7 linked regions of the Homo sapiens genome follow. The protein of the gene in region 3 interacts with the protein of the main gene of each other region in a biochemical or structural test. Each region holds a gene or a part of one and is shown on either strand. Other genes may lie near its edges. The genes, in order: IFT27, IFT80, UBXN10, IFT46, IFT74, IFT52 and IFT57.

Region 1 (3,500 bases), on a different chromosome or scaffold from region 3:
AGCCTGCAGGTGAGACAGCGCCACTGATGGGGTGGGGAGGGGCATCTCAGAGGCGCCCATGGGGCACCAGCCGGATCCACCCAGCAGGTGTGGAGTGGGCCACGACAGACCCCAGCAAACACGCTGCACTCCTGGCTCCGGTCTCTCCCTCCCGAAGACTGTGAGAGGAGGTGCCACTTTAAATCAAGTTCAGAATTTTGACAATCACCCAGGGCTGGGCACTTTAATACCTGAAATCGTGAATATCTTTGTGACTAAAGGAGCCCAAAAGAATTTTTGTTACCTGAGAGAGAAAAGAGAAGTTCAGGAACTTGCCCTAGATTTTATCTAAGCGGTGGAAAAAACGGGCCCCTCCAGGGTGCACAGGGACAGGCTGGAGGGCAAAGGAAATGGCGCCCTCTCTCTTAACAGCCACTCTCACTCTGTTGGGTGCACGTGTGCATTCAAAAACTTTCTCAGAAAAAAGTTGGCAGAAAAAGGAATGTACTACTTTCAAGACAGCAGCTCAAGCTATGAATGCACTAAGAACCTGTTTTGAGACGATCCCTGGCAGCTGGCAAAAGTGCAACCTTGAGAAGAGGCCGTGAAATATCCCCAACGAAACAGAAGGATTTCCAAACTGAAGAACGTTGCAGAAGGCATCAAGCGCGGTGCCTTCGCTTCACAGATGAGTAGTTTGGGGCCCAGCGGGTGAAGCGGCCCAGCTGGTTGGTGCAGAGCCCAGCCCAGCATCCAGATTCTCTGATTTGGGAAGAGCTACCTTTCCTCGAGGCCAGCTGGGATGTGCGAAGGAAACCAGGTCCCGTGGAGAAAGTTACCTGGACTTTCTAGCAAGGGAAAGCCTAAGTAAAGAAAACAGTTGGCCAAGAGGAAAGACAGTGGTGGCAATGCTGAGAGAGTGCCGAGGAAAGAGTGGAGAGTTTGTAGCCAAGACGAACATTTATAGTAAGCTCCCAACAGCCAAGGACTTGAAAGCCATCACCGTCCAGCTGGACACGAGAGCAAGAATTCAGTACATCCTGCCGGGCCCTGCTAGTTGTGCAGAGCACAAGGTCCTAGGCAAGCCAGTGTCGGGGTAAAACACTGCTTCCGTCGAAAGTAGAGTTAAGAATGGAATGGAAAAAGACTGAGGCCTGCATAGCGCACGCACGGGGATTTCAAAATGGATTCGAAAACACTCCACAATGCAATCTTGGGAGATCGCAACATAAAAAGGAAGGAATTCAATGCAGGTGAGCCTCAATAGACACCACGGCGTGCTTCTGAAATAGATGAAAATTGAACTGTTTTCCAAATACTTTGAGAGGGTTACCAATGACAGGAATCCTTTCGTCTGATCACTAATCATCATCTCGCTTACACAGTCAGGACAGCTGTGGAGTAGGTCGGCTTAGAGGGATTCTCAGGGCAGGTTCAGGCTAGTGTTCAGTCTGGCCTTGAATTGTGTTCTGCAGAGTCCCACAGCAGGCTCCGCAGGAGGCCAGGGTACCCCTTCTAGAAAACCCAAGTTTTCCAGCTGGACAGGCCTGACTCCTAGTCCTGTTTCTAGCCCTCGTTTAACTATGCAACCAGGGCAAGCTACACAACCTTTCTGAGTCTGTCATCTATACAACACAGGAGTGTTACCTTGTAGGGCTGTTATGAAGCCTAAACAAATAATGTGTGCAAAACACCTAGCACACAGTAGGCCCTCATCAAACGTTACTTCCCCACTCCTCGCTTGCCTGGGAGGGCAGTGATCAGCGCGGATTGTTCTTGCACTTGTTTGTAGGGACCTCCTTTGGGTAGGCAGGATGGTCACTGCGGTGTTTAGGCAGAAGAGAGGAGGAGATGAGCTTGGCGCCAGCCCTTGGCTGCGTCTCAAGCTGCGTTTGCTTATATTTCCTTTTTAATTACAGCTTTCTTAACCGAGCTGCCAGCGGTGCTTCTGTGAGCCTCAACTCAGGGGGGACTAGTTAACTTGCACAGATAATAGCAAGTGCTTACTGCAGCCTCTTCAAGAGTAGTTCACACCCACCCACCCACTTCAACACCTCAACAGAGTTTAACCCGTAGCCCACTGGCCTTTGGTGACTCCTGTTTTGGAGGTTGGGGTGGGTTTTAATTTCTGAGTTCTATCAAGCGTTCTAGGGAATATGGAATATTGGGGTGCAGGGACAATTTCACAAATGAATGGAGGAAGGGAGAATACTGAAATCCTGTTTGCTAGGGCACTACCGCCTACTGCTTTGCACAAAGGTGTGCTGCAGAAAAGATGGCAAACCCTCTATACAGGAAAAGCTGATTTGGGCTTCATTAATTTAGCATTTGTGATAATTGGACCAGAGGCAAGGGTGATATTTATCTCTGCACAAGCCATGAATACAAGGATTTAGTAAGTAATAACAGTATAAACAAGATTCTAGGGGTAATATTTATACTTTAAGAAAGCTAACATCTACTGAGTGTTTACCAGGCGCCAGACTCTGTGATCCATGTTTTATATGCGACATATTACTTGATTCTCATATTTATTACTCGATAAGGGATGTATTTTATGATCCTCACTTTACAAGCCTGAGCCACCAACAGGTGAAATAACATGTCCAGGTTCCCACGGCGAGTTCTGCCACTCACCATGGGAGGTCAGAGTGCCTGCCTTTACTGCTGTACTTTCCCTAAGGAAGCATGCTGCTTTGGGGGAGTTTTATAAGCTCGGACGGCAGCACTGGTCAAGGTTCCTAGATGCAATAGCAGAAGTGCCTAGAGCCAAAGTCAAGCTGGAGCAGAAGATGACCTCCAGAACATTAACCAGCCCATGACTCAATTCTGAGGGCCACAGAATCAGGTCTAAAGGCCACAAGGTGAGGTCCAAGTTACGACCATGACTGTGCCAGGCCTGGTGATCTCCCCAGCTAGCAACCCTGGCGAGGGGCAGGGCAACCAACACTCGGGCCCCTGCTGGCTCTGAGATGGATGTTCAGGGCCACACCTGTTCCTAGAGGGCAGATCATCACTTCATGCCCTTCCTAGTGGAGTCTCATGTGAGGGGTCTGATTGGTGCAGCCTGGGTCACATGGCTGCATCTTGGCCTCAAGGAGGATGGGACTTTAAAACTCCCAAACACAGGAAGCAGGTTCCTCAGTGCTGGACAGCTAAAATCATGATACATTAGGTTGGTGCAAAAGTAATTGCAGTTTTTGCCAGGAAAAGTGTACTGAAGACGCTGAAAATCACTTGCTTTTTGTAATGAGGTCTTCTGCTCTTTTAACTGGCAGGCACTTTGTGGCCTGGAGTCACCCTGGGGCTGCAGCAAGGTGAGGATGGGTGGTACCGATGGGAATTAGAGGCCATGAGTCCTAATCCTGGCTCCACCCTTCGCTAATCATGGGACCTTGGACAAGTCACTTGAGCTCCTCAACACTGGAATGGGAGCTGTGGGGCCAACTTCTGGTTCACAGGACTGGTTGTGAGAGCCACATGAAACAATGTTCCAACAACATCTGAACCCAGAATATTGC
Region 2 (3,500 bases), on a different chromosome or scaffold from region 3:
TAATGTTACCGAAACACACATAACTTATCACCGAAAACCCAGGAAGCTAGAAGGCAGAACAGCTCTTTTTTGGAAATATCATTTTGAAAGATAAGTATGTTTTTATTCCGTAGGTTGGAATTCTGGAAAGATATATTCAACAAGCAGTAGAGGTAGAGAGTATGGCTTAAGAGAGAAAATAAAATGGGTAGTGCTGTAAGAATAACTGGATCACTAAAAATAGGTTAGGTTTTTAAGATTGTAAGTGGAGAGAAGCTAGCACCAGACCAAGGATATTAAGGAAATGTTCATTTTTAGAATGTAAGAAGAAGAAATAATTACAGTAATATCTAGGATAGGAGCCTGTTGATTACAAGTGACAGAAAACCCAATCCAAATTGTCTTGAGAAAAAACAAATATTGTCTCCTGGAACTAAAAAGTCAGGTGACTATAACTGGATTAAGGGTTCAGACAAAGACACAAGGATTTGGTTTCTTTCCTTGCTTTGAACTCCATTGTGTTGGCAGTATTTTCAGGTTCCGTATGATGGCCTCTAGCACCTTTTGGCTCTCCCCTTGCTGTGGTAAGATAGCTACAGCAACTCCAGCCTCATATCTTCTAAAATTAAAATCCAAGGGGGAATGAGAGTTTCTCTTCCCCAGCATTGATTTGAATAAAAGTCCTGGGCCACCTGTGAAACAGTCTGTGCAAAGGGAATGGAATGCTCTAATTGGCTTAAGTCTGGGCCTCATGCCACATGGGCTAACAGTGAGGAAGTGGTTGTTGCAAAGAGAAATTCTTTTTAGGTGGGAAAAGAGTGACTATATATATGCAGGGTGAAAAAACAACTTTCACTGGAAATACTAACATTTATTAAGTGCTTACTGTGTATTGGGTACTCTACTGGACACTTTACATACTTTATCTCATTTAATCATCATAACTAATTTGTCAGGTAGGTATTATTAGCCTCATTTTACATAAGAAAGTAAACAAAGTATAGTATCTTCATGAAGATAAGCCAGGTGAGAGTTTTAATAAGAAGGGGATTCAAGTGTGGAGAATGGTGATCTTATAAAAATATTATTTATTAGGGTTTTATAGAAATGCAGAAATGCATAAAAATTAGGTCATAATCCTTTCACTCAGATAATTCTATATTAAATATATAAGTGGATAGATTAAATAATACTGTGAGCATTGTTGAAAACTTCAAACAGAACAGAAACATATAAAATTAGAATTTAAAGCTTTCCTTCTCATCCCAGTGCCCCCACCCTTTTAGGGGTCTCCATTATTAAGTGTCTTGCATATCTTCCCAGAAAATGTTTTGGTATCCACCAGCTTAAATATATCTCACTTTTTCTTTTCACAAAAGGAATTGAATCATATAATACAGCTGTATACCTTGGTTTTCTCATTTAACATAGACATCTTTCTATATCAACATGTACAAATTCATCTCATTTTTAAAATAGTTTTTTTTTTTCTTTTTTGAGATGGAGTATCACTCTGTCGCCCAGGCTGGAGCGTAGTGGCACAATCTTGGCTCACTGCAACCTCCACCTCCTGGGTTCAAGTGATCTCTCCTGCCTCAGCCTCCCGAGTAGCTGGGATTATAGGCGCCCGCCACCACGCCCAGCTAATTTTCATTATAAGTATAGCCAATACGAATAATATTGAAGTATGGCTATTAATCATAGCTAGAATTTCAAGGAAATGTAAATACCACAGCGTACACATACACTTTCGCAAATGCATACAGGAATTGAGATGGGGTGGGAGTTGGAGGTCTTTACTAATTAAACCATGGTTGTCCAACCCACGATCCATGGGCCACATGCGGCCCAGGACAGCCTTGAATGCAGCCCAACACAAATTTGTAAATGTCCTTAAGACATTATGAGATTTTTTTGTGATTTTTTTTTTCTTTAGCTCATCAGCCATCATTAATGTTAGTGTATTTTATGTGTGGCCCAAGACAATTCTTCCTCCAATGTGGCCTAGGGAAGCCGAAAGATTGGACACCCCTGATAAAGTAAACGGCCATACTGTTTGCTGTGGCTAAGCCTTTGAGTCCGTGCCTGGAAATGGTGAGCCTGCTTCTCTCTCTTTTCTACTGTACAAGAGATCTCAGCTCAAGTGTGCAAGTTCTGTGATGGCACCAATCTGAATAAAAGGCTTGCCTTTCTCCTTTCTTCTTTCTCTATTGGAGAAGAGACACAGGAGTCTGGTCAGAGCTATCAATTTAGGGGACCGTTGATAAAAACTGTACTTCTTTTAATAGGACCTTGGTTAGTAATAAGCCAGCCTGCTTTCTCTATTAACTAGTATGCAAGTGACCCAAAGAAAACTCGGTATAAATATGCTTGTGATCTAGCTCTTGAATTTCTTATCTATTCTTCACATTCTTGTTCACTACTAGAGATTTTTCTGCCACTTCTTATCTATAGGTACATTCTTGTTGACAAGTCATGGTCTCCCTGTTTATCATCTAAAATTTTTCTTATTGTTAGTGCTTTTACCTCTTAGTTTTATTTCCTAAATCTAATTCTTTTATTTTCTTTTTTAAAAACCATCTTTTTTTTAAAGTGTACAGTTCAGTGACATTAAGTATATCCACAGTTGTGCCACTGTCACATCCATTCATTCTTCCATCCATCCACAGAACTCATCTTGCAGAACTGAAACTGTACCCATTGAACAATAACTCCCTATTCTTCCTTCCCCTAGCCCCTGGCAGCCATCATTCTACTTTTTGTTTCTATGAATTTGACTACTCTAGGTACCTTATATAAGTGGAATTCATACAGTATTTGTCCTTTTGTACTAGCTTTTTTCAATTAGCATAATGCTTACTTAGGTCTAACTCTTAATTATATTTTCTTGATTTTAACCCTTCCATATTATAAACACATATATCCACACAGGGATGTAAAATCTATGAACATTTAAATTTCTAATTTTTGATAGTATTTCAGAGTTCTGTAATGAACAGATTTGAATATACAGACAGTCTCAGACTATGATGGTTTGACATGATTTATATTGACTTTATGATGGTGTGAAAGGAAAGCACTTTTCAGTAGAAACTGTCTTTAAATCTCTGGGTGAGATAGGAAGCCACTGAAGAGTGTTCAGCAGTGGTTTATTTAATCTAATTTATATTTTTTAGAGACAGGGTCTCACTCTGTTGGCCAGGCTGGGGTTCAGTGGCATGAACATAGCTCACTGTAACTTTAAGCTCCTGTGCTCAAGCAGTCCTCCTGCTTCAGCCTTCCCAAGTAGCTAGGACTACTGGCATTCACCACCATGCCTGGCTAATTATTTATTTTTTTGTAAAGAAGGGGGTCTCACTATGTTGCCCAGGCTGGTCTTGAACTCCTGGCCTCAAGCAGTCTTCCTGCCTTGGTCTCCTAAAGTGCTGTGATCACAGGTGTGAGGCATTGTACCTGGCTGTGGTTTATTTTAAATCAGCCACATGGGCTGTTGTGGTGAGCATACATTGTAGAGTGGCTCA
Region 3 (3,500 bases):
CCCCACTGCACAGATCCCCTCATATAAACACGAGGTGAGCATGAAAACTATGAAACTAGGAGCTTTATTAATTAAGCCCCAGAATGATGGCTTTGTTTGCCTTCCCAAGAAGAAATGCATCCCCAGTCAGCTGCTGGACTGGAATAAATGGAGGGAAGGGTGGCAAGAAAGGGAGGGATGAAGGACAGGAGATAGAGATAAACAGTGTATTTAACTAGAACAAGGATTTCTTATTAAGTAACCTTGGTCAGCAGTCATATCATACCCCTAGAGGTAGATGATACTTTTAACTTATATCTCAACATTAAGTGAAACAGTGACCTTAGTTTTATCTCTTAATTAAAACAATGAATAGCTTTGATTTTCTCTGTACACTTTGTCCAAAAACACTCGTGCATTTCCTTGATGGGAATGTTCCTGCTGGTCAGTGTCTTTCCCCTGCCTGCCATGTGCTTTGCTGCCGTGGTGGTTGTTTGCTTGTTTGTTTTTGCAGAAACAATCCACGTTGGCGATATTGGTCAAGCTAAGTCCACCTGGGTGAATCCCAACTTGTCAAACTATCCTTTTTTTTCTCCTTAAGAAAATGGATTATATGTCCAGAATCTGGCCACCTCTCATGACATCTCTGGCTACCACCCTGGCCCGAACCACCATCACCTCTCTCTGGTCACCTTCATACCTCCAGCACTCAAGTCTTCCATCTTCCACCCCAGCCCCTCAACACGGCAGCCAGAGGGCGCCTCTGAGCAGGACAGTCTGAATGAGGCTTGCTCAGTTTTACCCGTGGGCATTTGTCACCACAGTCGTTCAGTCTCTTGGGATAGGATTTAAGTGTGTCCAAAAATACCTCCAGAGATTTGTGCTTCCGCGTCGACTGTTAGGAGGGCTGCTGCTTCCTAAACTGTTTGAACATAAAGGCACACAGATGAACGTCAGAAAGGGCTGGGAGAAGCTTCCCTAATCAGGAAAGGAAAGTGGCACGCCACCCGTGTAGACAAAAAATAAAACACCTAATTTTAGTTTTATGAGTGTTGTGTGTTGGTAACTGAGTCACCAAAAGTCTGTTCTCCTTTGATTGCTAACTCCTCCGAAGCGACCTCAGGCCTTCCCTGTTATATGGTGGGGTTTGGTTGGTTCTGGTTTCTGGATGAGAGTCAATAGGCTCGTGAACTTTTAACTTTACTGTGGGGTGTTGCCTTAATGGACTGAGAAAACAGATGTTCCTGCTTAATTCTTGGAATGACTTCTAAACTAATGCTAAAGCAAAATAATATAGCTGTCTTCTTTATTCCGTTTAAAAGGTAGAAAAGTAGATCCTCTTACCATGTAAAAGTCTCTTTTATCCGAACTTATTATGAGGATTTTATTTTTAAAACTAAGTAAAGAGAAACATCTTTGTCCCAAGAGGCAGGGTGGCTTTATTTGACATTAGAAACCCATTTAAAACGGCAGGTAAGAGCATGAACAAAAGCAAAGTTTAGTTCCTCGAATGCCTGCTTTTGTAATGCAGGTGGATCTGGCTCTAGTCTTTAAGGTTATTAATTGGAATGAATGCCCCAAGGCTGCTCTTAGTTTCTCTGTGAAGCATTTTATATGGGAGCTCTGGGGTGACTCTGGGTCCACAGTCATGTTCACAAGCCATCTCTTCCGCAGGAGTGCCCTGCCTTGAAGGCTGTTGGCTGGGTCCCCAGATATTCTCAGGGCAAGATCTGTTGTGTTATAACCACCTGCCATCTGTTGGTGCAAATTTTCTGGATTCTAGATGATGAATCACTTACTTCTCCTGCTGTTCCTTCTGCTGCCAAGACTAATTTACCTATTGGACTTTATGAGGGAATATACTAGAGTAACCTATCATGAAGGTTTGTCCTATGCAAAGTTCCTACTCCATCACTAGAAAAGGTGGGCAAGAGCTTCCTTAGCATCTCCAGAGGGTGGGATGAAGAGCCAGCAGTAACAATGTGGGATCCTCACTTTGGGGTCCTTTGCAGATAAAGCTATAGCCACTGACTTCAGTAAGGTTTGAGTTGAGAGTCCAATGGTGGGTTCATGTTTTCTTGCCAACACTTTCTTTTCAGGACACCCATGCTTGTCTCAAAGTGTGGCACTGGGTAAGCCCTCAATGGCCATCGGTTAAATGAATAACTGAGGTCTATGACCCCAAACTGGGCAAGGCTGACCCACCCAAAGCCACCAAGAGGAGTGTGCTAGGCCGGTTGAGCCCATTTAGGACAGGGGGCCTCAGCTGCAATGCAACATGTGGAGCCATCAGGAACTCTGAATTCTGATTTAGTTTGTTCTTGCCAATCCCCAAAATCAGAGTACTTGGAATGATGTTTAGGAAAAATTCAGGTGACTCTTATCCAGACAAGCTAAGTGCTGTGACAGAAGCTGAGAGCAGGAGCCCCGTCGCTTCTGCAGTGGGCATCAGAAGTGTCCGGGGAGGAGGACTTGGTTCTAACAGTGGAACAAGTGCTTTCCCAATGAGAAAACTGAAGATCAGGCTAACACACCCCTCTGTCCAGTCGTGTGTGGGAGCTGAAGCCTTAGGTTAAAATACGAGATGCACTTCTCCACTGACTCAGTTTCACACAAGTTGGTTTTTATCGTATCATCTTTTGTCCAAAAAAAAAATGTTTATTATGATGGTTTGAGTCTAGCTTTATTCACATATCCTAAAATATCCTAAAATATTTCTATGCTTATGCCTTCCACTTTTTCCCAACCCCAAAATTCTAAGCTCACCAGCAGCAGCAAACCCTAAGCACAGAAGATTCTAACTCCTTCAAGCTTGCTCCATTTCACTCAAGTTTTCTAAAGCTTTCCTGTCTGGAGAAATTACCAAGTCCCAGGTGGGTGGGATTTTATTCTTACCACAGAGTAGGTGTGATTTTATGGGAGGCTCTTCCCCCAGCCTCCTAGATCAGACATAGAGTTATGTGCTCAAGTCCTGGTGGGAAGTGAAATTCCTGTACTTTTAGGTGCTGGGCTCAAATTCTGTCTGCTGTGGTCATTAACGGGAAGAGGTGGCCAGTTGTGTGGGCCTGCCTGAGGCACCACTGGCCCCAGCTGACCTTTCCAATCAAAGGAATGGCTGACCAAACCAGGATGGTATTAAGAAATTCTATAAAACATTCAGAAATAACCTATTCTAGAATGATCTGGGCAGTGTGGGATGCAGTTAGGACCAGACCAGCCTTCTTCTGAGCAAATGGCAGTGGTGCCCATCTCCACTAAGCCTCAACGTGCGAGAAAAAACACTCCCAACCATGCAGCTTATCTGAGCACAGGATGCGCTTGTTGCTGGGGTAGCCACATGTATATGCTTCTGGAACTCCTGATTCCTGCCTTCTCTCTGTATACCCAGGAGGCGGGAGCACACACCAGAACTCAGGACTTTGTGATGACCATGCTTTGGGGGAACAACATGCACAGAATGTCTGAGTGTTCCCTACTCTGAAGGATGATTTGGCCATAAAAGGGATCAGATGAGTCATGGA
Region 4 (2,445 bases), on a different chromosome or scaffold from region 3:
CATGATCTGCCTGCCTGGGCCTCCCAAAGTTCTGGGATTACAGGCGTGAGCCACTGTGCCTGGCTAAACACCCTTTGTTAGAAATAACTAGCATGGTTTCAGACTTCCTGACTGGAGCTTGGCTGACATAACTCCAAAATATTTACTGAATCTGTCCATCTCTACTACTGCCACCCCAATCACCTCTCACCTGGATTACCGCAATAGCTACGCTCCCTGAGACCAGAACCAGACAGGTCTGGAGCCAGACAGCCTCAGGAAGGCGGCATTAACTGAAGAGAGACCCTTAGAAAAATTAAATTCCAGAGGAAAAATGATTCCCCTCGACTGCCAATCTTGGAGGATTGGGGTTTCATTTTATTTCACAAAATTTGTTTGCTTTAACTACTCTTCATTTAATGCCCATTACTAAGCAAAGTTCCTGTGTCTCTGCGTTATGCTCAGTCAGCCTTTTCTCTTTCATATTAAATAGCAGAATAATCTGACAATATAATAGAGCATTTGATTTATAAAATCTTTACTCACTAACTTTACGAATGAAAGAAAACAATTCCATCCCTCTCACAAAAAGGACATCTTTTAAGCTTTCCTCCCAATCTAACCTCCATGGGATCTCAGAAATTCCAATTCTTATAACTCAAATCCCCACAGTGGTGTAGATGCATTAACTCCCCGGGGACAGCAATCTGAGGCAGGCAGGTTCATTAAACAAACATGTTCTGTGCCCTCTGGCAGAGAGGGCAGCAGGACATGCACTGCCCCTGAGCCAAGCTGTGGCATGGGCAAGGACATCAAGTAGCTGACAACGATCTGTCCATCTCAGCTGGGGCAGAGGGGCCAGCTCAGCCTTGAAACAGCAGCTTGGGAAGTGTCTCAGCTGAAGGTTAATGTCTCCATGTCTCCAGCTTGGGAGGTGGAATTGGATGAAGGAGTGAATGCTTTCTTGCCTTCAGCGAGAGCTTTAAAATGCTGCAAGGAAGAGGAGAGGGAATATTGAGTATTAGGGATATGCTAATTGCTATATTTTAACAAGAATTAATTTCTTTAAAATGAACCCCCTTTATTTCCTTCCTGCTTCCATTCATGAGGGAACTTGGTTCTGAAAGAACGAGTGTCCTCTGTAGATCCTCACCTGATTTCATCTAAGGCCCACAACTCCTACTTCCACCCACCCTTTTTTTTCCTCCACTTTCCCCTTGAAAACTCCATCCCTGCCTCCTTTGCTCTCCTAATTATGGGAAAGGGCGAAGGTAACTGGGCAGAGACATCCTACATCGCTATAGGATGCAATCACAGCAGGCTCAGAACAGTAGAAACTATAGTGATCCTCTCTACAGCTTAAGTCAACCCCTGATGCTTGGCTCACCTGTGAGTTCTTGAATTCTGAGTAGAGGGAAAAGAGCAGATGGAGGGACTGGATCCGACTCTTGTAGACAGGGATGTCTAGAATGGCTGAAACGAAGAAGAACTTCCAGGAACAGAAGCAAACAAACTCCGGGAATTAGAGGCCCTTCTGTCTAGCACAGGCAAAGCCCTGGCAGATGGGGTGTCGCTATGACTTTGGGGGTTAAATACCCAGCAGGTAGTCACATAAGCCAAACACCACCTTTGAGTGCTGCCAAAGAGCACAACGGGCTTAAAGTGAAGGCTGAAACTCAAGATACTATCTTCCCAGAGTAAACAAGCCTGTCCAAAAGCCTAGAGTGTCTCTATCCAGAGATGGGGACGAGGAAAGGAAAGAGGAACTCACCACAGATCATGTCAATGTACTCTGCCAGGCTGCAATCAATCTCTGCCGTGGGCAGGCTTACCTGGAAGGGGCATGGAAGGACCAAAGTCAAAAGGATGGTGTCAGTGGTCCCAGAACCACTCTCTCTCTCTGAAGCAAAAGAGCTTCTAGCATAAGACACAGGTTATGGGCTGAAATGTGTTCCCCTAAAATTCAGATATTGAGTTCCTAACTCCCTGTACTTCAGAATGTGACTATATTTGGAGATAACATCTTTAAAGAGATAATTAAATTAAAACAAGGTCATTAGGGTGGGCCTTAATCCAGTATGACTGGTGTCCTTATAGGAAGAAGAAATCAGGACAAAGACGCATAACAGAGGGAAGACCATGGGAAGACACAGAAGATGGCCAAGAAGAGACCCCTCAGAAGAAATCAATCTTGGTGGGGCGTGGTGGCTTCACGCCTGTAATACCAGCACTGTGGGAGGTTGAGGTGGGCAGATCGCCTGAGCCTAGGAGTTCGAGACCAGCCTGGGCAACATGGTGAAATTCCATCTCTACAAAAAAATTAGCCGGGTGTGGTGTTGAGTATCTGTAGTCCCAGCTACTTGGGAGGCTGGGGTGGGAGGACTGCTTGAGTCCAGCAGGTTGAGGCTGCAGTGAGCTGAGATTGAGCTACTGCACTCCAGCCTGGGCATAGAGTAATACCCTGTA
Region 5 (3,500 bases), on a different chromosome or scaffold from region 3:
CTCAGCAATTATTTGTTGAATGATTGAATGAAGCATTATGTGTCATGTACAAAGTCAATAACTACGGTCTGAAAAAAATTGATCATTCTTATATCTAATTAGTCTATATTAGAAATTTGCACACATGGTTTAAAACCCTAAATGCATTAAAAATTCCCTCTTTTGGCCAGGCACGGTGGTTCACGCCTGTAATCCCAGCACTTTGGGAGGCTGAGGTGGGCGGATCACGAGGTCAGGAGATCAAGACCATCCTGGCTAACAACGGTGAAACCCCGTCTCTACTAAAAATACAAAAAATTAGCCAGGAGTGGTGGCGGGTGCCTGTAGTCCCAGCTACTCGGGAGGCTGAGGCAGGAGAATGGCTTGAACCTGAGAGGCGGAGCTTGCAGTAAGCTGAGATCGCGCCACTGCACTCCAGCCTGGGTGACAGAGCGAGACTCTGTCTCAAAAAAAAAACAAAACTCTCTTTTTCTTCATATGGTTATGTGATCATGATAGAGCAAAATAAAAATGATGTCATTTGATTTTCCACTACATAGGTACAACCGTTGTTAACATTTTGGTGCCATATCCTTGTAGTATTTTCATCCTTTGCAATCATACATCCATATTGTTTTTACAAAAAATAAAACCATGCTATTCATACAGTCTTTCAACATTTTCTTAACTTTTTTCAGCCTTCTTTTTTTTTTTTTCAAACAGAGTCTCACTGTGTTGCCCAGGGTAGAGTGTAGTGACATAATTGTAGCTCACTGCAACCTGGAGCTCCTGGACTCAACCGATCCTCCTGCCTCAGCCACTGAGTAGCTAGGACTACAGGCACAGACCACCATGCTCAGCCAATTTTTATTATTTTTTATAGAGACAGGGTCTTGCTGTATTGCCCTGGCTAGTCTTGAACTCCTGGCCTCAAACTGTCCTCCTGCCTCAGCCTCCCAAAGTGCTGGGATCACAGGCATGAGCCACTGTGCTTAGCCTTTTTTTTCTTTTTGAGACGAAGTTTTGCTCTTGTCACCCAGGCTGGAGTGCAGTGGTGTGATCTTGGCTTACTGCAACCTCCACCTCCTGGGTTCAAGCAATTCTCCTGCCTCAGCCTCCCAAGTAGCTGGGATTGTAGGCGCCAGCCACCACGCCTGTCTAATTTTTTTGTGTTTTTAGTAGAGACAGGGTTTCACCTTGTTGGCCAGGCTGGTCTCGAACTCCTGACCTTAGGTCATCCACCTGCCTCGGCCTCCCAAAGTGCTGGGATTGCAGGTGTGAGCCACCACACTCGGCCTTTGGTGACATTTCTATAGCATTAGCTATTTCATTGTATGGATGTACCATTTGAAAACAACATACACCTTACATTCTTTTTGAAAAGGGTAGAATCTCATGAAAGCTTGCTACAACTACTAAAAGCTTAGAAATCACTAATTTACATAATTCAAATTTACCAGTTATTCTGTTCTACTTCATATGGAAACCTAGATATAGACTTATAATTGACACAATTTTCTTAGGTTGTTTAGAGTGAGGATGAGTGCTGGGGAAGAAACAAGACAAAGTTTGGGAGGTCATTGTCTTCAGCAATTCTTGGAAAAAAATACTGATACTTCTTATGGAATATTAGCCCTCCTCATTCACTGAATAGATGATTTAAGGTGGAAAGCACTTGAAAAACACCATTTCTTAGAGCCAGTGAGTGGTTAACTTGTTTATCCCCACATTAATTGCTAATTTTAACTCCATGTATTGATAACTGGAAATCATAACATAAGCCACAATTTCGAATCCTTCTCTGTGTTATTTGTCATCTTTTGTGAATCCCAACTGATTAAGTCAAATCCTGGTCTTCCTATCTTTCACAATTATCTTCTTGAAAACTGGCTTTTGGCATCTCTAAAGAATTTTATGTAACAGATTATTTAAACTAGTTAGGGAAAAACAGATTTTCAAAATGAATTTTTGCTTCATGATGTCCTTGGAGGTTTAAAGGAGTCAATAATATAGAGGTATAATGTAAAAGGAATTTGACCATCTGACACAGCATTGCTTTTATACCATTCCTGTAGCACTTAACAGGTCTGATGCATTATAAGAAGGCCACCTGTTTGTATGAAACAATGACAAAAAAGTCTGGTACTTGACTTTGCTGAAGGTTATTAGAAATTTACTGCCAGAAACTGCTGACTGCTTCCTTAAGTCCATCTTAACTTCAAGGTCCTGTCTGGGGGAGATTGATGTGATTAGTAATACCAGCTCACAGCACATACAGTTCACATAATTAATTAGCTATGATTCATTCTAATATCTAGATTTATCTCTTTGGAGGAAACAATGAGATGGATCTACATCAAGCCTGAATTTACGCCCTGAAAATTATTTTAACATGAGGATAGAAACATTTCCACTGTTGCTTCAATTATTGTATTTTTAAAAATAATCATTACTTCTTTGAAATGTCCAGGTGGAACATAATTTTAGCATTTCAATTTTCAAATGGTCCTTTGCTTTGGAAAAAACTATGTGCATCTTAAAAAAGAAAGACCATAACCAGAGTTACAAGGTTAATTAAATCAGAAAAACAATATAATTCTATAACAGTAAAATTGTCTTCTGAGGAAGCAACCATCAATATAATATCCACATTAGCTTCCTGTTGATGCAGAAATTATTGTAACAGTGCCAGCTTTTTACCAGCTCTCTTATAATCTTCACACTGCAGCTCTGCTCTTATCACAGCTTGTGGAATTACACAGGAAATTTAGCCCTGGAAATAAGGAAGTTTCTCCTATATGGCTGAACCTTTGACAGTGTTTGAATATGTATTATATTTGTGGCATTAGACTTCCAGATTTTAAGAAGAGATTCCCATCATGTCCCATTTTTCTTTTAAAAGTTTTTTTAGGGAAAGGAAAATCATAAATTGTCTTTCAGTTGGCATGTTCATTGGTATAATAAACATTTAAAATATAATTAAAATAAATATATAGAGTAAAACATGTTATAGGATTCATCACTGTATTAATATATTTACTATTATTTAATCTTTTTTTTTCTACCGTGGCTTTATCTCAATAAAATGTAAGTTGATAAGATTTAAAGTTGGAGAGATTTTTTTTGTCTTATCCTCTTAGAAAGGCATTTAATTGTTTTAAATATGGGTCCTAATTAATATTTTTCTTTTATGTTTTTAGCTTACAAATTTGGAGAGAAAGTGGCAACACCTTGAGCAAAATAATTTTGCGATGAAAGAATGTATCCTTTAAAAAGCTGAAAATGGGGCCGGGTGCGGTGGCTCATGCCTATAGTCCCAACACTTTGGGAGGCCGAGGCAGGTGGGCCACAAGGTCAGGAGATTGAGACCACCCTGGCTAACACGGTGAAACCCCATCTCTACTAAAAAATACAAAAAAAACATAGCCGGGCGTGGTGGCGGGTGCCTGCAATCCCACCTACTTGGGAGGCTGAGGCAGGAGAATGGCGTGAAACCGGGAGGTGGAGCTCTCAGTGAGCCG
Region 6 (3,500 bases), on a different chromosome or scaffold from region 3:
CCTCAGCCTCCCAAAGTGTTGGGATTACAGGCGTGAGCCACTGCGCCCAGCCTCCACTTCTTTTATACCAAAGCACTTACCATTTTCTAGCATCCTATGTGACTCACTTATGTTTACTGCTTATTGTCTACATCCTCCAGCTAGTATATAGGTTCCATAAGTACAGGGTTTATTGTCTGTTTTGTTCACCTAGTAGATGCTTAATAAATATTTACAGGCTGAATCAACGTCATAAAACATGGCAAGCACAGTCCATGGAAGATACCAGTACTGGAGGGGCTCCCACTACACTGTGCCTTGTAGGCTCTGTACCTGGTTCAATTTCTTGAACTCCACCACTTGGAAGAAGACGTGCTCAAGGATATGTTTGGCATCCTGTTGGTCCTTTGGTAGTTTACTGGTTACTCCAAGAATATCACCACACTTCCTGACATAAAATTCCAGGTCTTCTTCAGTACCTAAGACAGTTGGAGTAGTAGTTAGATTAATTCTTAACTTCTGCCCTTCCCAAAGTACAGACTTAGTGTGTTTCAGGTATGCCCTGTCATGTTTCCACATTTCCTAAGATCACTCACCTCTTCCTAAAGTAATGTGACTACAGGATTTCAACACTGAAAAACCCTAGAGCTCTCTAATGTGCTGCTTTTATAATAAAAGCACTCCTAATCAGAATAAAACTGGACTGGTACTGGCTTTCCTATTCCTCAGATCTAGTATTCCTACATTAGAAAGAACAGGTGCAACAGTAGGAAATCAAATTATCATTCCCTGAATGCAACAAAGATGACTATAGAGAAGCATATGGGTAATTAAAAATAGCATTTACTAAAACAATATTGTATTGGCTGGGCGTGGTGGCTCATGCCTGTAATCCCAGCAATTTGGAAGGCTGAAGCAGGTAGATCACTTGAGGTCAGGTGTTCAAGATCAGCCTGGCCAACATGGCAAAACCCCATCTCTACTAAAAATACAAAAATTAGCCAGATGTGGTGATGCAGGCCTGTAATCCCAGCTACTCGGGAGGCTGAGGCAGGAGAATCACCTCAACTGGGGAGATGGAGGTTGCAGTGAACAGAGATTGCGCCACTGCACTCCACCCCGGGCAACAGAACAGACTCCATCTCAAACAAAACAAAACAAAACAGCCGAGCGTGAAGGCTCACGCCTGTAATCCCAGCACTTTGGGAGGCCAAGGTGAGCGGATCACGAGGTCAGGAGTTCGAGACCAGCCTGGCCAGCATGGTGAAACCCTGTCTCTACTAAAAATACAAAAAAATTAGCCGGGCATGGTGGTGCGCACCTGTAATCCCAGCTACTCGGGAGGCTGAGGTAGGAGAATTGCTTAACCCTGGGAGGCGGAGGTTGCAGTGAGCTGAGATCACGCCATTGCACTCCAGCCTGGGGGACGTGGTGGCTCACATCTGTAATCCCAGCACTTTGGGAGGCTGAGGCAGGTGGATCATCTGAGGCCGGGAGTTCGAGACCAGCCTGACCAACATGGAGAAACCCTATCTCTACTAAAAATACAAAATTAGCCGGGCGTGGTGGTGCATGCCTATAATCCCAGCTACTCAGGAAGGCTGAGGCAGGAGAATCGCTTGAACCCGGGAGGCAGAGGTTGCAGTGAGCTGAGGCTGTGGTGAGCCAAGATCGTGCCACTGCACTCCAGCCTGGGCAACAAGAGCAAAATTAGGTCTCAAAACAAAACAAAACAAAACAAAACCCCAAAAAACAAACAATATTATAGAAAGAAAATTAAAGAAAAAAATCACCCATAATTCCACCAACAACATAGCTCTGTGAAGCCATCCTCTGGAGCCCTACATGTAGGATAGACAGCCATTACTGCCCTTCTCACATTATACTGTAATTTCTTTCTTCCTTTTTTTTTTTTTTTTTTTTTTTTGAGACAAGGTTTGGCTCTATCACCCAGGCTGGAGTGCAGTGGCATGATTTCAGCTCACTGCAACTTCTGCCTCCTGGGCTCAAACCATCCTCCCACCTCAGCCTCCCAAGTAGCTTGGACTACAGGTGTGTACCACCACGCCTGGCTGATTTTTTGTATTTGAGACGGGGTTTCACCATGTCGCCCAAGCTGGTCTCGAACTCGTGAGCTCCAGCAATCCACCTGCTTTGGCCTCCCAAAGTGCTGGGCTTATAGGCATGAGCCACTGAGCCCAGCTGTAATTAATTTATTCTCCCTCTGATTTGCATTTTAAGTTTTGATAGAAATGTATGTTTTTTACTAAGACATTCAAACCCACAGCTGTATCAATGTTTCATCCTAGTTCTACTGCCACCAACTACCTAGAATTATTATTGCTATGTATGCTTCTGTGTGTAAATGTAAGTTTTCACAAAAATGGGATCAAACTAGAATAGTTTTCTAAGTTGACTTCATCATTTAATGATGTATTATGGACATTCCGAATCAAAGTTTATGCCCTGCATTTTTTTTATTTTCTTTTTTGTTTTTTCAGATGGAGTCCCACTCTGTCACCCAGACTGGAGTACAGTGGCGTGATCTTGGCTTACTGCAACCTCCACCTCCCGAATTCAAGCAATTCTCCTGCCTCAGCCTCCCAAGCAGCTGGGATTACAGGCACCTGCCACCATGCCTGGCTAATTTTTTATTTTTATTTTTAGTAGAGACAGGGTTTTACCATCTTGGCCAGGCTGGTCTCAAACTCCTGACCTTGTGATCCACCTGCCTCGGCCTCCCAAAGTGCTGGGATTACAGGCATGAGCCACTGCGCCTGGCCTTTTCTTTTCTGAGACAGGGTCTCGCTCTGTCAACCAGGTTAGAGGACAGTGGCACAATCTTAGCTCACTGCAGCCTTGACTTCCTAGGCTCAAGCAATCCTCCCACCTGGGCCTCCTGAGTAGCTGGTACTACAGGAGTGAGCCACCATGCCCGGCTAATTTTGTTTATTCTTCTATAGAGAAGAGGTCTCACAGTGTTGCCCAGGCTGGTCTCAAGTGATCCTCTTGCCTCAGCCTCCTAAAGTGCTGGGATTATAGGTGTGAGCCATCGCACCCAGGCTACATTTTTCTTTTAACAGGTATGTAATATTCTATTTTGTTTCTATTTATTTATTTTTCAGAAACAGGGTCCTTTGTCACCCAGGCTGGAGTGCAAGGTGTATCATAGCTCACTGCAGCCTCCAACTCTTGGGCCCAAGTGATCCTCCCACCTCAGCCTTCCAAGTAGCTAGGAATATAGAAATGCGTCACCGCACCTGGCTACTTAAAAAAATTTTTTTTTTTAGATGGAGTTTCGCTCTTGTTGCCCAGGCTGGAGTGCAATGACACGATCTCGGCTCACCGCAACTTCCAACTCCTGGGTTCAAGCGATTCTCCTGCCTCAGCCTCCCCAGTAGCTGGGATTACAGGCATGCGCCACCACACCCAGCTAATTTTGTATTTTTAGTAGAGAAGGGGTTTCTCCATGTTGGTCAGGCTGGTCTTGAACTCCCAACCTCAGGTGATCTGCCCACCTT
Region 7 (3,500 bases), on a different chromosome or scaffold from region 3:
TTGAATCAATAGTTTGAATGTTAAAAACCTCTAAATTATAGTTAAAAAGCCTACCCTTCTCAGCTGATTTATAAGAAAAACAGTACGCTGATTATCAGACATTTTTGTACAATGAATCTCTCTTCAAACAAGCAACAAATAATTTGTTTTATATATTAATACTATTTTGTTAAGTAGGTTTCTTGAAGAGCTATTTTTCTCTTGCTCAGTTTTTCCCCTAAAATGAGCATGTACTTACCACCATCAGTCATGCTGCTGCCCTTTTCTTCCATTTCTTGTTTTACCTTTTCTAATTCTTCCATAACCTTTCATGAAAACAAGTTTTCATGAGCATTACATTTTAATAAACTTTCACAATTTTTGAATTATGTGTTAAGAAAATGTAATTTAGATATTAGCCACACATATAGAAAAATAAAGATATTAGGAATATTTTGGACATAATTCAAATAATATAAAGTATGCAGATATACAAAGCTTTTCAGTTTTTCAGAATGCTCCTAATGTTAAACTTCACCAAATGGCTGTCACATCTGTTTTCTCATGTTGCAATATACTAAACACAATCAAAGTTGTTTTAGTCACTAGACACTCAAACCTCGCAATTATCTCATCGCATATACTTTGAAATTCTCTAATAACTGGTTATTAATTAAAATAGTATAAACATCCTGAAGAGATTTTAGATTTCTAAAGCTTTTCTGGGTATCTTTCTTAATATTATAGTTCTATAAGACATTATGTCACTTTTTCCTCTATAGGACACTAAAAAATGTTTATATCATATGGCTATATATAAGAATATTCTTATTGCTTTATCCAAATCATGAACTCCGAACTCCAAGGAGGCATACTTTGCTGTCACACTTGTTCCTATCTGCACTCTATCTGGCGATTATACTACTATAACCTCTATTATTAGCAAAATTCCAAACCAGCATTAATATAAGTAGAAAATACTATCTTTAAGAAATTGAAAATTTTTTACATGATCTACAACTAAGCTATAATTATTGTGACTTAGTAGGCTTTATTTTTATCATACTGGTGAGTAAAACTTTCCCTGGGAATAAAGTGCTCATCCAAGTAAAGCAAATTAATTTTTTCAGGCATCTGAAATGTTACAACTGGGGATAACTATCTACTCCAAAAGAAGTAAATGGTTCCCTGGACTCCCTTCAAGTGTTAATTTACCTAACATAAGTGAACACTTTACTTCTACATACTGTTTTATTTGCTTAGAAGCACCACAGGATTACAGTCTAAATATTTCTGATGTTATATTTTTAGTGTTTTAAAATAACTTTATTCCTCAAATAATCTCTATAAAAGAGGTTTAATTCTTTCCTGTCAAAACAGTAAAGTTTGTTCCAATTATACTGGATTGTAACCAAAGATCATCTTGGATTTTAGTCCCAAATAAACTACTGACCTTTTTTCAAGGTTTTTTCCTCCTTTGGCTCTTCAGTGAAAAATGGGAATATATATCAGGTCCTACCTCTCTTGCAAGATCATAAAAATAAATGCAACTATTTATTTTTATGCAAATATTCTAAAGGAGGAGGTTATAAGCCACTCCCAATTGTGGACAGAGAAATACACCCAGGATCACACACAAATTATCAATAACAGTCACTAAAAATAAACCTTATATCTTGCAGACTAACGTTAAAATTTGTTATAGATTCCTTAAGTCAGTGCTTTACTATTCATCCCCATGTTAATAATAATTATTATGTAAAAAATGTTGAGGAAAATTATAAGTGTGCTAATATTATGAGCAGGTTTTATGTTGAATTTAATACAGAAACTTCAGGCATCCTGTGGAAACAAGAAATGTATCAATTATTGATTCAGTCATAGGAAAATTAGGGATTATCTCCTAAAGAAAATGATTTAAAGGCACAGGAAGCAACTGAAATTAGCAGTGTTAAACCATTTGTAGGTTCTCAATGGCTGGGGCCCAGCTGACAGGTGAGAAGCAGGGCAAGAGCATCAGTGTGTACCTCAGAGAGGAGTCTGGTTCTTTCCGTCACTCCTCCATTTCCCTGCTGGTATCGCTCCTTTGCCTGAGAGGAAAAACATTTTGTTTAATGGCAAATTCAAAGCAGCAGCAGATTAAATACGACTGACCTCTTTGTGTTTGCAATTTCTGCAGGTCATTTTATGACAACCCTGCTCCTTGTTTGTGAATACATTTGTGAAAGTGACATTTAACTGTAGCTGTTTTATGTCCCTAATAGGCAGCATGTATTTAACTAAGTACTACAAAATGATGAACTACCTTAACCTTCACAAACTGACTGTGTACCTCGCATGGGCATGGTTCACAATAAAAACTGTCCTTGGTCATTCCTAAACAGTTTAGGAGAGGGGCTCTTGGTCAATCTAATTTGCATGCTCCGCAGAGAAAGTCCGTTCTAAAACCAAAAATCAATCAAAGTAGAGCATGAAGCTCAATGATGAATAAGGATTAACATCCCGTAAGACAGTACACTCAACTGGAGTATGTCAGAAACTAACAATCAATTATATAATATTAATATTAGACAAATACATGGTGGCTTTGATCAGAGAGTTTTACATCATTTTGATAGTTAAAATATTCATAAGTAATTGTGTATATGAAGGAATAATACATTTAACAAATAACATCAAAAAGTGTAGATTTCTATTTAGTCTTTGAGGACTTCTGAAAGTATAGAAGTATCTCAAATTTACTTCTACTTTTTTCTCTTTCTCAACTTTGTCTGCTGAAGACAAAAAATATGCCTTCAACTGATGTTTGCAACTGTCCTTACTAGCCTTCTTTAACATCAGAAAATAGGGGGCACAAATCCCAAAGGAAAGCTTTTAGATCCCTACTGCTGGGACAAAGAACTGGTGCTTTCAAAGTCTAGTGATTTTATTTTTTGGTTAAAATTCTAAAACTTTGAAAGAATGAAAAATTTGTCTCATTTTATTAATTAAACTGCTTGTCTCTGAATGTATCTTGCTTTCACATTCCTTATTATGTGGTTGTAAGCCAGAATGGCAAGGACTGTCTTTTTCCTTTGACACATGTAAATGCATACTATTCTTCTTCCTCCTACGCCAATGGTAAATTAACAACAGACTTATAGAAGCAAAACCAGGTGTCCTGATACTCTGTTCCTGTTCTAAGCTATGTTCCCCCAACAGCATATGCCTTCATTTACTTAAATCAAATGAAGACGTGCATTTAAAGACTTCCAGGAGAAAACAACTTCTATTACATGTGAAATGGAAATAAGTTCACTCGGCTCTCTTGGCTTCCTAAAGTGGGCAGAAAATTGATGTTTTGCTGTTCATGAAAAGCATTTCATGATTCTCAAATGAACAGTATTGTGTCAAGTTTAGGGTTTAGGGTTGTTAACTTGAATAAATCCTTGGAAATCATTCTTAAATTACCTCACTCAGCTGGGCTTGAGCTGCACGATATTCTTGAACCAAATTCTCAAGCTGATTGTTGATGTACTTTT

The links.
Region 1: the proteins of UBXN10 (region 3) and IFT27 form a complex in vitro, tested with the Homo sapiens proteins (one study listed by BioGRID).
Region 2: the proteins of UBXN10 (region 3) and IFT80 form a complex in vitro, tested with the Homo sapiens proteins (one study listed by BioGRID).
Region 4: the proteins of UBXN10 (region 3) and IFT46 form a complex in vitro, tested with the Homo sapiens proteins (one study listed by BioGRID).
Region 5: the proteins of UBXN10 (region 3) and IFT74 form a complex in vitro, tested with the Homo sapiens proteins (one study listed by BioGRID).
Region 6: the proteins of UBXN10 (region 3) and IFT52 form a complex in vitro, tested with the Homo sapiens proteins (one study listed by BioGRID).
Region 7: the proteins of UBXN10 (region 3) and IFT57 form a complex in vitro, tested with the Homo sapiens proteins (one study listed by BioGRID).

Annotation. Positions count from the first base shown.
Region 1 is NC_000022.11:36,759,120-36,762,619, forward strand, and holds part of IFT27 (intraflagellar transport protein 27 homolog), read right to left. Parts: intron 1-3,500. UniProt on the Homo sapiens protein: Small GTPase-like component of the intraflagellar transport (IFT) complex B that promotes the exit of the BBSome complex from cilia via its interaction with ARL6. Not involved in entry of the BBSome complex into cilium. Prevents aggregation of GTP-free ARL6.
Region 2 is NC_000003.12:160,392,726-160,396,225, reverse strand, and holds part of IFT80 (intraflagellar transport protein 80 homolog), read left to right. Parts: intron 1-3,500.
Region 3 is NC_000001.11:20,192,596-20,196,095, reverse strand, and holds the end of UBXN10 (UBX domain-containing protein 10), read right to left. Parts: 3' UTR 46-3,500; downstream 1-45. UniProt on the Homo sapiens protein: VCP/p97-binding protein required for ciliogenesis. Acts as a tethering factor that facilitates recruitment of VCP/p97 to the intraflagellar transport complex B (IFT-B) in cilia.
Region 4 is NC_000011.10:118,544,043-118,546,487, forward strand, and holds the end of IFT46 (intraflagellar transport protein 46 homolog), read right to left. Parts: exon of another isoform or gene 2,106-2,445; coding exon of another isoform or gene 2,077-2,105; intron 1,812-2,076; coding exon 1,751-1,811; intron 1,453-1,750; coding exon 1,367-1,452; intron 970-1,366; coding exon 874-969; 3' UTR 501-873; downstream 1-500. UniProt on the Homo sapiens protein: Forms part of a complex involved in intraflagellar transport (IFT), the bi-directional movement of particles required for the assembly, maintenance and functioning of primary cilia. May play a role in chondrocyte maturation and skeletogenesis.
Region 5 is NC_000009.12:27,057,412-27,060,911, forward strand, and holds part of IFT74 (intraflagellar transport protein 74 homolog), read left to right. Parts: intron 1-3,179; coding exon 3,180-3,240; intron 3,241-3,500. UniProt on the Homo sapiens protein: Component of the intraflagellar transport (IFT) complex B: together with IFT81, forms a tubulin-binding module that specifically mediates transport of tubulin within the cilium. Binds beta-tubulin via its basic region. Required for ciliogenesis.
Region 6 is NC_000020.11:43,639,437-43,642,936, reverse strand, and holds part of IFT52 (intraflagellar transport protein 52 homolog), read right to left. Parts: intron 459-3,500; coding exon 313-458; intron 1-312. UniProt on the Homo sapiens protein: Involved in ciliogenesis as part of a complex involved in intraflagellar transport (IFT), the bi-directional movement of particles required for the assembly, maintenance and functioning of primary cilia. Required for the anterograde transport of IFT88.
Region 7 is NC_000003.12:108,163,425-108,166,924, forward strand, and holds part of IFT57 (intraflagellar transport protein 57 homolog), read right to left. Parts: coding exon 3,430-3,500; intron 2,070-3,429; coding exon 2,007-2,069; intron 306-2,006; coding exon 239-305; intron 1-238. UniProt on the Homo sapiens protein: Required for the formation of cilia. Plays an indirect role in sonic hedgehog signaling, cilia being required for all activity of the hedgehog pathway.